2 linked regions of the Homo sapiens genome follow. The protein of the gene in region 1 purifies or fractionates together with the protein of each later gene. This does not show direct contact. Each region holds a gene or a part of one and is shown on either strand. Other genes may lie near its edges.

Region 1 (4,168 bases):
TTCAGCTGGGGACAGTTAGAGAATCCACCGCTGGACGGTTAAACTCCAGGGGAAGATCATCTCCCTACTCCACCCCCTTTCCAGCTCCCCATCCATCCTACTGAGTGCCACCCCTACCACCTAATAAACACCCCCAACCTTCCCCCAACTCCTCTACCCCCGCCCCCACCCCGGCACTCACCATCCTTCAAGTCCATGTGTGACCTGATTCTTCTGGGAGGTGAGACAAGAGCTGAGATACAGAAACTGTCACACTGACCCTCTGCGCTTGCAAAAAGGCAGAGGGTCTATTGAGCTGGTTAACACTTAAGCCGTCAGCTGATGGTAAGGCTAAAAGAGCACACTGTAACACACGCCCATTTGGGCTCCGGGAATCACGGGATCCTGCCCCTGGACACTGCCGTGGGGCTGGAAGCCCAGCGCCCCAGCTTTTGCACCCTGGCTCCTGCACCCGTCCGTCTGCATGCTCCACCTCCCATAAGGGGTTTCAGCAGGCAGAGACCGAACACACGAGCCACAACCCTGTTGCACGTCCTGCAAAGGGCTGTGGGAGGGCGGGGGCCGGGAGGAAATCAGGGAACTCTCCTGTTTCATTGTCACAAGACTTGCAAGGCTTCCTTAAGAGAGGGGTACACTTCCCCACCCACTGACAGCAAGTTTTGACCAATAGAAAGTGAGCAGAACTGAGGCATGCGGAATGTGAGTTTGGAAAGCAGCTTGTGCCAGTCATGTACAGGAGCTAATTGTTAAATTTCCAGGAACTTGGCAAGCCACTTGTTGGACTGTTTGTAGCTTGAAATCGGCCATTGTGGGAGCATTTACATCATAGAAATAGCAAACACTACATATCTGGACTTCCCCCTTCTCCCTCAAAGTTGGTTTACCAGCCCAGCAGGGAGCATGGCCCAGAAAAGTTGACCTTTCAGCCTGGAGTGAAGAAAACTGGTGGAGTACTGCCAAAGCTCCCTGCAGCCACAGTAATTCGCTTGAGAAATGGACCTTTAAGCCACTGAGTTGCAGGGGTTGTTCGTTACCTGAGCATCATCTAGCCAAAGCTGGTACACCATGCTGGTGTTTTGGTGAACACCAATAAGCGCCGCCTTCATCTGTCCCAACCTAGGTTGGAGGGATTTCTTCCAATAACTTGTGACATCATGCGCCTACAGCCTGCAAAGATGCAAACCGCGCTCTGAGACTCAGGCCCGGGAATTCAGGTCTTGGAAGGTTAATGCAAAGTTGTAAAACAATAGTTACATTTCAACCACACTCAGCTATTGCGTCATCTTAAAACCCTGGCCAACACAAATCTGTCGCTCGCGATCCTTGGCGGTTTCAGAGCGACTCCCCTACCGCTTTCGGGCGAAGGCCACACGTGACGGCCCCCCTTTCCCCGCAGACGTGTGAATGCAGCGCTGTGTCTTTAAGGGGCACGCGCGGAGGTTTTCCGTCCGGGACAAAATGTCAGCGAGGCGCCTGGAGGGGGATCTACCATCTCGGACTCCCGACCCGCCGCCGGCTCCGGCCGCGTTTCCCGGGTAAAGGGGTGAGTGTGGGCTTCCAGACTCGGTGGCGAGGCGGGCTGGGCCGGGCAGCGGGGAGCGCAGGTGAGCAGCGACCGCGGACGCCCCTGCCGGCCTCCCTGGCACCCGCGCGGGGCGTGCCCTTCGCTGGGCTGCCCTTCTCCGGGCCGGCTGTCGCGACTGTGAGAAAGCAGGTGGGCCCGGGATTCTGTGGCAAGGCCCCGCTCACCGTCTTCCAGTGCCTCATTCTTGCTCCTTCCCTGCACTCCTCTTTCGACAAGCTTGTTCGGAATGTGGAAATTCGTCACCACTCTCCTGCTCTCCCTTTATTAAAGTTGTCTGATTACAGTCTTTTCACTGGGCAAGTGACTGGACGCCCTGCAGTGGGTTCTTTCTGTAACTGGGACTTGCTTGATGTCGCCCACTTTCGGAGGGAGAAAGCGAATGCAAGCCAAAAGCTTACACCAGAATCCCCACCCCTCCCCCACCCCTCATGGCCCCCAAACAAAAGAATTTTCCGCTCCTTTCGGAGTCCGCTGGAGCAGTTTCTGTGATTTCTTGCACGAACCAAATGCCCGAGGCTTAGCAAAGCAAAAACCCCCTTGAAGGAAAAAAATAAATACTTACCACTAGTCGAATTTCTAATGAGCCAAGACTACAAAGATAAGGTGTTTAAGAGAAACAGTTGTAGAAACAGCTTAATACATTGACCTAATTAGGGTAATTATTTTCTGCTGTTTTTATTCATATGCTGACACCTTTTGGAGGCAAGAATAGCTTGAGGCAGCCAAGAATAAAAAAAAAAGTAGACAGCAATACGTATTATAAAAAGACCAAAAGCCCAAGCCAGGTAATTCTCAATTTAAAAATTAAATTAAAAAAATCTTTGAGTCACAAAGGCCTTCAAAGTAGGGCAGCTTTAAATTCCTATAACTCAGATTAAATTATGCATTTTTACAAGATAAAATGGATCACCACCTTAATCTTTAGGACCATATCTATTAAGCAAAGTAATGCAGACCTGAAATAAAGGTCCACTTTAAGGGCAGAACACTTCACAATTTTCATTTTTAAAAGTGCATTAATAGAGAGAGAGAGTGCTTCTCTGCCTTTTAGCTAATGGTAGAAATATCTAAGAGTTTGGCTTATGCCATTTAGGAAACAACTCTGATTCACCCCTTAATTACCTGTGAGTCCAGTGTATTTTTTACAGTCCACATATAACCTTTTTCTAAATTTTTACACATTTTACCATTTATTCCCCAACTCAGGTTTTACAGTTTGGAGGCATTTTTACTTGTCTTTTAACTTCAGCTAAGCCTTCAGCCTGGTGATTCCAGACTAATTTTTCTAATTGTCTGGATCTCTTTATAAATAGATTAATATATGGCAGTAAACTAATATTTCAACAGAGATGGACGGATAACAGATGAACTGTGGTTTTCTTGACACTTCAGTTGTCAACTCTAATTACTTGTATTAATTATTATGCTCTGCTTTCATTAAAGTCACTGGTGGATGAAGTAAAAGAAAATGTTTTTAGTGTTTCCACATATGTCTGTGTGAATTTCACGTTAGTGTGAATTTCTCATCTAAGATCCAGGCTCAACCAACATATATTGATTTAAACTCTGCCTGGTCAACCCAACTACAGTAAGTAGCCTTGAGTATAGAAGGACAAATAGAGGTGTAGTTAATCTGCTATGTCCTTTTGAGAACAGTGCCTGGTTCTTTGGCCTTTAGCCTGCCAAATATTTTTTATGTGCACAAGCATAAGTATAAAATAATACAATCAACTTTTGTAGGTGCTTTATAGGATGAGTCTCAATATTATAGTCATACCTTGTGTATATGCCCATGTTTATACAGATTATTCATCCAGGTTTTGATCTCTTCCTTTATTCTTTATATTGGTATTCAGGGACATCATACTGAGGAATCTGGGATTTAATCTGATAGTTCATCAGAAGGATAGAACTTCTTCAGAAATTGAGTCAAATGGAGAGATAATTAATGTGAATTTATTGTCTTCCACAGGCTTAGATTTAAGAACTCCTTCCAAATAATGGATACTCAAATGAAACTCAGCTATAGCAAGTGCAGAGGCATGGTACCAGCAACACTACTCTCTCTCCTTCCTTGAAATATCTAAAATCTACATTTGTCTTTTCAGTTTTTTTCACCCTGAAATTACACTCAAAAATTTCCACTGTTAATTTCATGTTAGCAGTGCTTTTATTTAGCTTCAAGAAACTTTCTTTTAAAATAGGAGCTTGGAAGCCTCGTTATACAACTGAGGAACTGGAACTTCATTAGAGTCGAGTACTAAGGGTAATGTGTTTTGGTGATGGACAACAATGCGTTTGTGCCCTGTGGGGCATGGGAGGGGAAGGGATGCTGAACTGCATGAACTTTTGTGTTAGGGCCCCTAAGACATCAGCTCCCAGGAGCTGCCCATGCCCACCCCTTCCCCAGTGGAGATTATGTGACGGAATTCACCCGAAGGAGTGAGCACTGATTTCACCTTTACCACAGTGTGTTAGTAATCTGTTTTCGCGCTGCTGATAAAGACATACCCAAGACTGGGCAATTTATAAAAGAAAGACGTTTAATGGACTTAAAGTTCCACGTGGCTAGGGAGGCCTAAC
Region 2 (3,500 bases), on another chromosome or scaffold:
GCAGCCTCCTTCTCACAGGTTGAAGCGATTTTCCTGCCTCAACCTCCTGAGTAGCTGGGATTACAGGTACACACCACCACAGCTGGCTAATTTTTTTTTTTTTTTTTTTTTTTTAAAGACAGAGTCTCTCTCTGTCCCCCAGGCTGGAGTGCAGTGGCGCTATCTCGGCTCAGTGCAACCTCTGCCTCCTGGGTTCAAGTGATTCTCCTGCCTCAGCCTCCTGAGTAGCTAGGATTACAGTCGCTCGCCACCACACCCAGCTAATTTTTGTATTTTTAGTAGAGATGGGGTTTTGCCATGTTGGCCAGGCTGGTCTCGAGCTCCTGACCTCAGGTGATCTTCTCGCCTTGGCCTCCCAAAGTGCTGGGATTACAGGCATGAGCCACTGCACCTGGCCAATTTTTGTAGTTTTTAGTAGAGATGGGGTTTCACCATGTTGGTCAGGTTGGTCTCAAACTCCCAACCTCAGGTGATCCACCTGCCTCAGCCTCTCAAAGTGCCGGGATTACAGGCGTGAGCCACTGTGCTCGGCCCTGGGATGGCTGTTTCACATGGTGAATTTCCCATGCAGAGAAGAGTTTTTTTGGGAGTGTGTGTACTCTTTGTAGGGATCAACTTAAGGCATCTTTCTATAGCACACTCCTAGCTTAGGAGATAATTTAAAAATTAGATACTTTTCTAAAATGCTCTGTGAATTGAATATTGTCCAACTTTCCCCCAAAACACTTAGTCCTAGGCATACTGAGAGTTTAAATCATCCTGGAGTACAGACTGGAAGCTTGTGTGTATGTGTGTGCATGAGCACACACACACACACACACACACCCCTAATCATTATATCCAAAAATAGGTAGTTCCCAGAGCTGTCCTGGGTCTTAGCTTTTCAGAAGATCGTCCTACAGATGCTCCCTTAGTTGTGACCCGTGTATATCTTTTCAATGACTTATTTGTATTTTTTATTTTTTTTTGAGACGGAGTCTTTTTTTTGAGACGGAGTCTGTCTTTTTTTTTGAATCTGTCTTTTTTTTGAGACAGAGACTCCAGTCTCTGTCGCCCAGGCTGGAGTGAAGCGGTGCGATCTCGGCTCACTGCAAGCTCCACCTCCCGGGTTCACGCCATTCTCCTGCCTCAGCCTCCCGAGCAGCTGGGACTACAGGCGCCCGCCACCACGCCCGGCTAATTTTTTGTATTTTTAGTAGAGATGGGGTTTCACTATGTTGGCCAGGCTGGTCTCGAATTCCTGACCTCAGGTGATCTGCCCACCTCGGCCTCCCAAAGTGCTGGGATTACAGGCGTGAGCCACCGCGCCCGGCCTCAGTGACTTATTTTAACGTAATCTACCTTTAGTTTCTTCTTGCCTTTGTCTTTTCTTTTCTGAGACAACGTTTTGCTCTGCTGCACTGTGTGGCCGTGTTGCCGAGGTTCTCAAACTCCTGGCTTCAAACGATCCTCCTGTCTTGGCCTCACAAAGTACCCGGATTGCAGGCGTGAGCCACTGTGCACAGCCCACTTGTCTTATTCAAGAGTTATTTTAGTTGTAGAGATGATACGCATGTAAACTGCTTCATGATGCCCAGTGTTGCATTATTGGAACGCTAAGCATGTGGGAGTTATTTATATCCTGCTCAAGGTACGATTTTTCACACGTCTGCAGTTCAAATAATTGTAACCTCTGGCATAAATGGGTTAAGGTTTTAGGGGTATATCATGAAACTTGAGCTAAATAGTGTCATGCTTCTCTTGTTGGTGGGACCGAGGTCTGTAATGCCACCAAGGACTATTGGTGACAAATCTCTAGCCCCCTGTGGTCTCTTATGTCATATGTTTGGGGCGTATTTCTTTTCTCATTCCTCAGTTCCTCCTTTGGGAGGCCAAGGTGGGAGGATTGTTTGAGGCCAGGAGTTTGAGACCAGCCTGGGCAACATAGCAAGCCAGTGTCTCCACAATCACCACCCCTCATGTTCACATACACAGGCTTGCATGCTGCAGCCACGTTAGAGCCAAGTTTGCTATCATTAACCCTGGGGTTCACTCTGGCATTCTCTTAGTTCTACTGAAGGTTTGATTTGCCACTATTTTTTATTTATTTATTTGGAGGCAGAGTCTCGCTCTGTCACCCGGGCTGCAGTACAGTGGTGCGGTATTGGCTCACTGCAACATCTGCCTCCCAGGTTCAAAGCGATTCTCCTGTCTCAGCCTCCTGAGTAGCTGGTATTACAGTTGTCTGCCACCATGCCCAGCTAATTTTTGTATTTTTAGTAGAGACGGGGTTTCACTATGTTGGCCAGGCTGGTCTCGAATTCCTGACCTCAGGTGATCTGCCCGCCTCGGCCTCCCAAAGTGCTGGAATTATAGGCGTGAGTCACCGTGCACCAGCCTGATTATCTATTTTTTAAATTTATTTTTTAAAGGCATGTTTTACTCTGTTACCAGGCTGGAGTGCAGTAGGGCAATCTCTAGCTCGTTGCAACCTCCGCCTCCTGGGCTCAAGTGATCCTCTTGCCTCCGCCTCCCGAGTAGCTGGGACTATAGGCGTGCACCACCATTCCTGGCTAACTTTTTCTATTTTTGGTAGAGACAGGGTTTCACCGTGTTGCCCAGGCTGGCCTTGAACTGCGGAGCTCAAGCAATCTGCCTGCCTTGGCCTCCCAAAGTGCTGGGACTACAGGTGCGAGACACCGTGCCTGGCCATAATCTTTTTTTTCTTAGACTTATAAGGATCCCCATTGTGTGGGTCTAAATTTCTTTTTAGAAAACTTTTCTGACTGGGTGCTGTGGCTCACATCTGTAATCCCATGGCTTTGGGAGGCCGAGGTGGATGGATCACTTGAGGCCAGAAGTTCGAGACCAGCCTGGCTAACATGTCGAAACCCCATCTCTACTGTAAATACAAAACTTAGCCAAGCGTGGTGGTGCACACCTGTAATCACAGTTACTCAGGAGCCTGAGGCATGAGAATTGCTTGAACTTGGGAGCTGGAGGTTGCAGAGAGCCAAGATGGCACCACTGTACCCCAGCCTGGGCAACAGAGCAAGACCCTGTCCCCCAGAAAATCCCAAAAACGTTTCCTGCTTTGAGTGTTTGAAAACAGATATTCAGGCATCCTGGGTAGTTGAGAATGAATTTCTGGGAACATTTGTGTTCTCTGATCCCTCCAGGTTGAAGACCTATGAAACTAATTTGGAAATCAAGAAGCTGTTGGAGGAAGTGAAAGAAAAGAATCCCAAGCTGACTATTGATTGCAATGCTTCCGGGGCAACGGCACCTCCGTGCTGTGACTTTTTTTGCTGAGCAGCCTGGGATCGCTCTACGAATTACACAGGAAGCGGGATTCGGGTCTCTAAGATGTCTTATGAATGCAGGTCAGAGGGTCACATGTTAACACTAGAGTCTGTCGAGAGGTAGGATTTGACACTGGTTTTCTCACTATTTTTGGGAGATTCTGCACGAGTCACGCACCCCCTTCACATGACGCTATGTACTTTCTCACAGGGATAATA

Evidence for each region. The genes of interacting proteins can lie anywhere in the genome.
Region 2: the proteins of ZBED3 (region 1) and NLRP7 purify together in Homo sapiens (co-immunoprecipitation; one study listed by IntAct). This does not show direct contact.

Annotation. Positions count from the first base shown.
Region 1 is NC_000005.10:77,084,486-77,088,653, reverse strand, and holds the start of ZBED3 (zinc finger BED domain-containing protein 3), read left to right. Parts: upstream 1-1,368; 5' UTR 1,369-1,543; exon of another isoform or gene 1,544-1,939; intron 1,940-3,557; exon of another isoform or gene 3,558-4,168. UniProt on the Homo sapiens protein: Acts as a positive regulator in the activation of the canonical Wnt/beta-catenin signaling pathway by stabilizing cytoplasmic beta-catenin. Involved in transcription activation of Wnt target gene expression.
Region 2 is NC_000019.10:54,923,531-54,927,030, reverse strand, and holds part of NLRP7 (NACHT, LRR and PYD domains-containing protein 7), read left to right. Parts: intron 1-3,158; coding exon 3,159-3,291; 3' UTR 3,292-3,500. UniProt on the Homo sapiens protein: Inhibits CASP1/caspase-1-dependent IL1B secretion.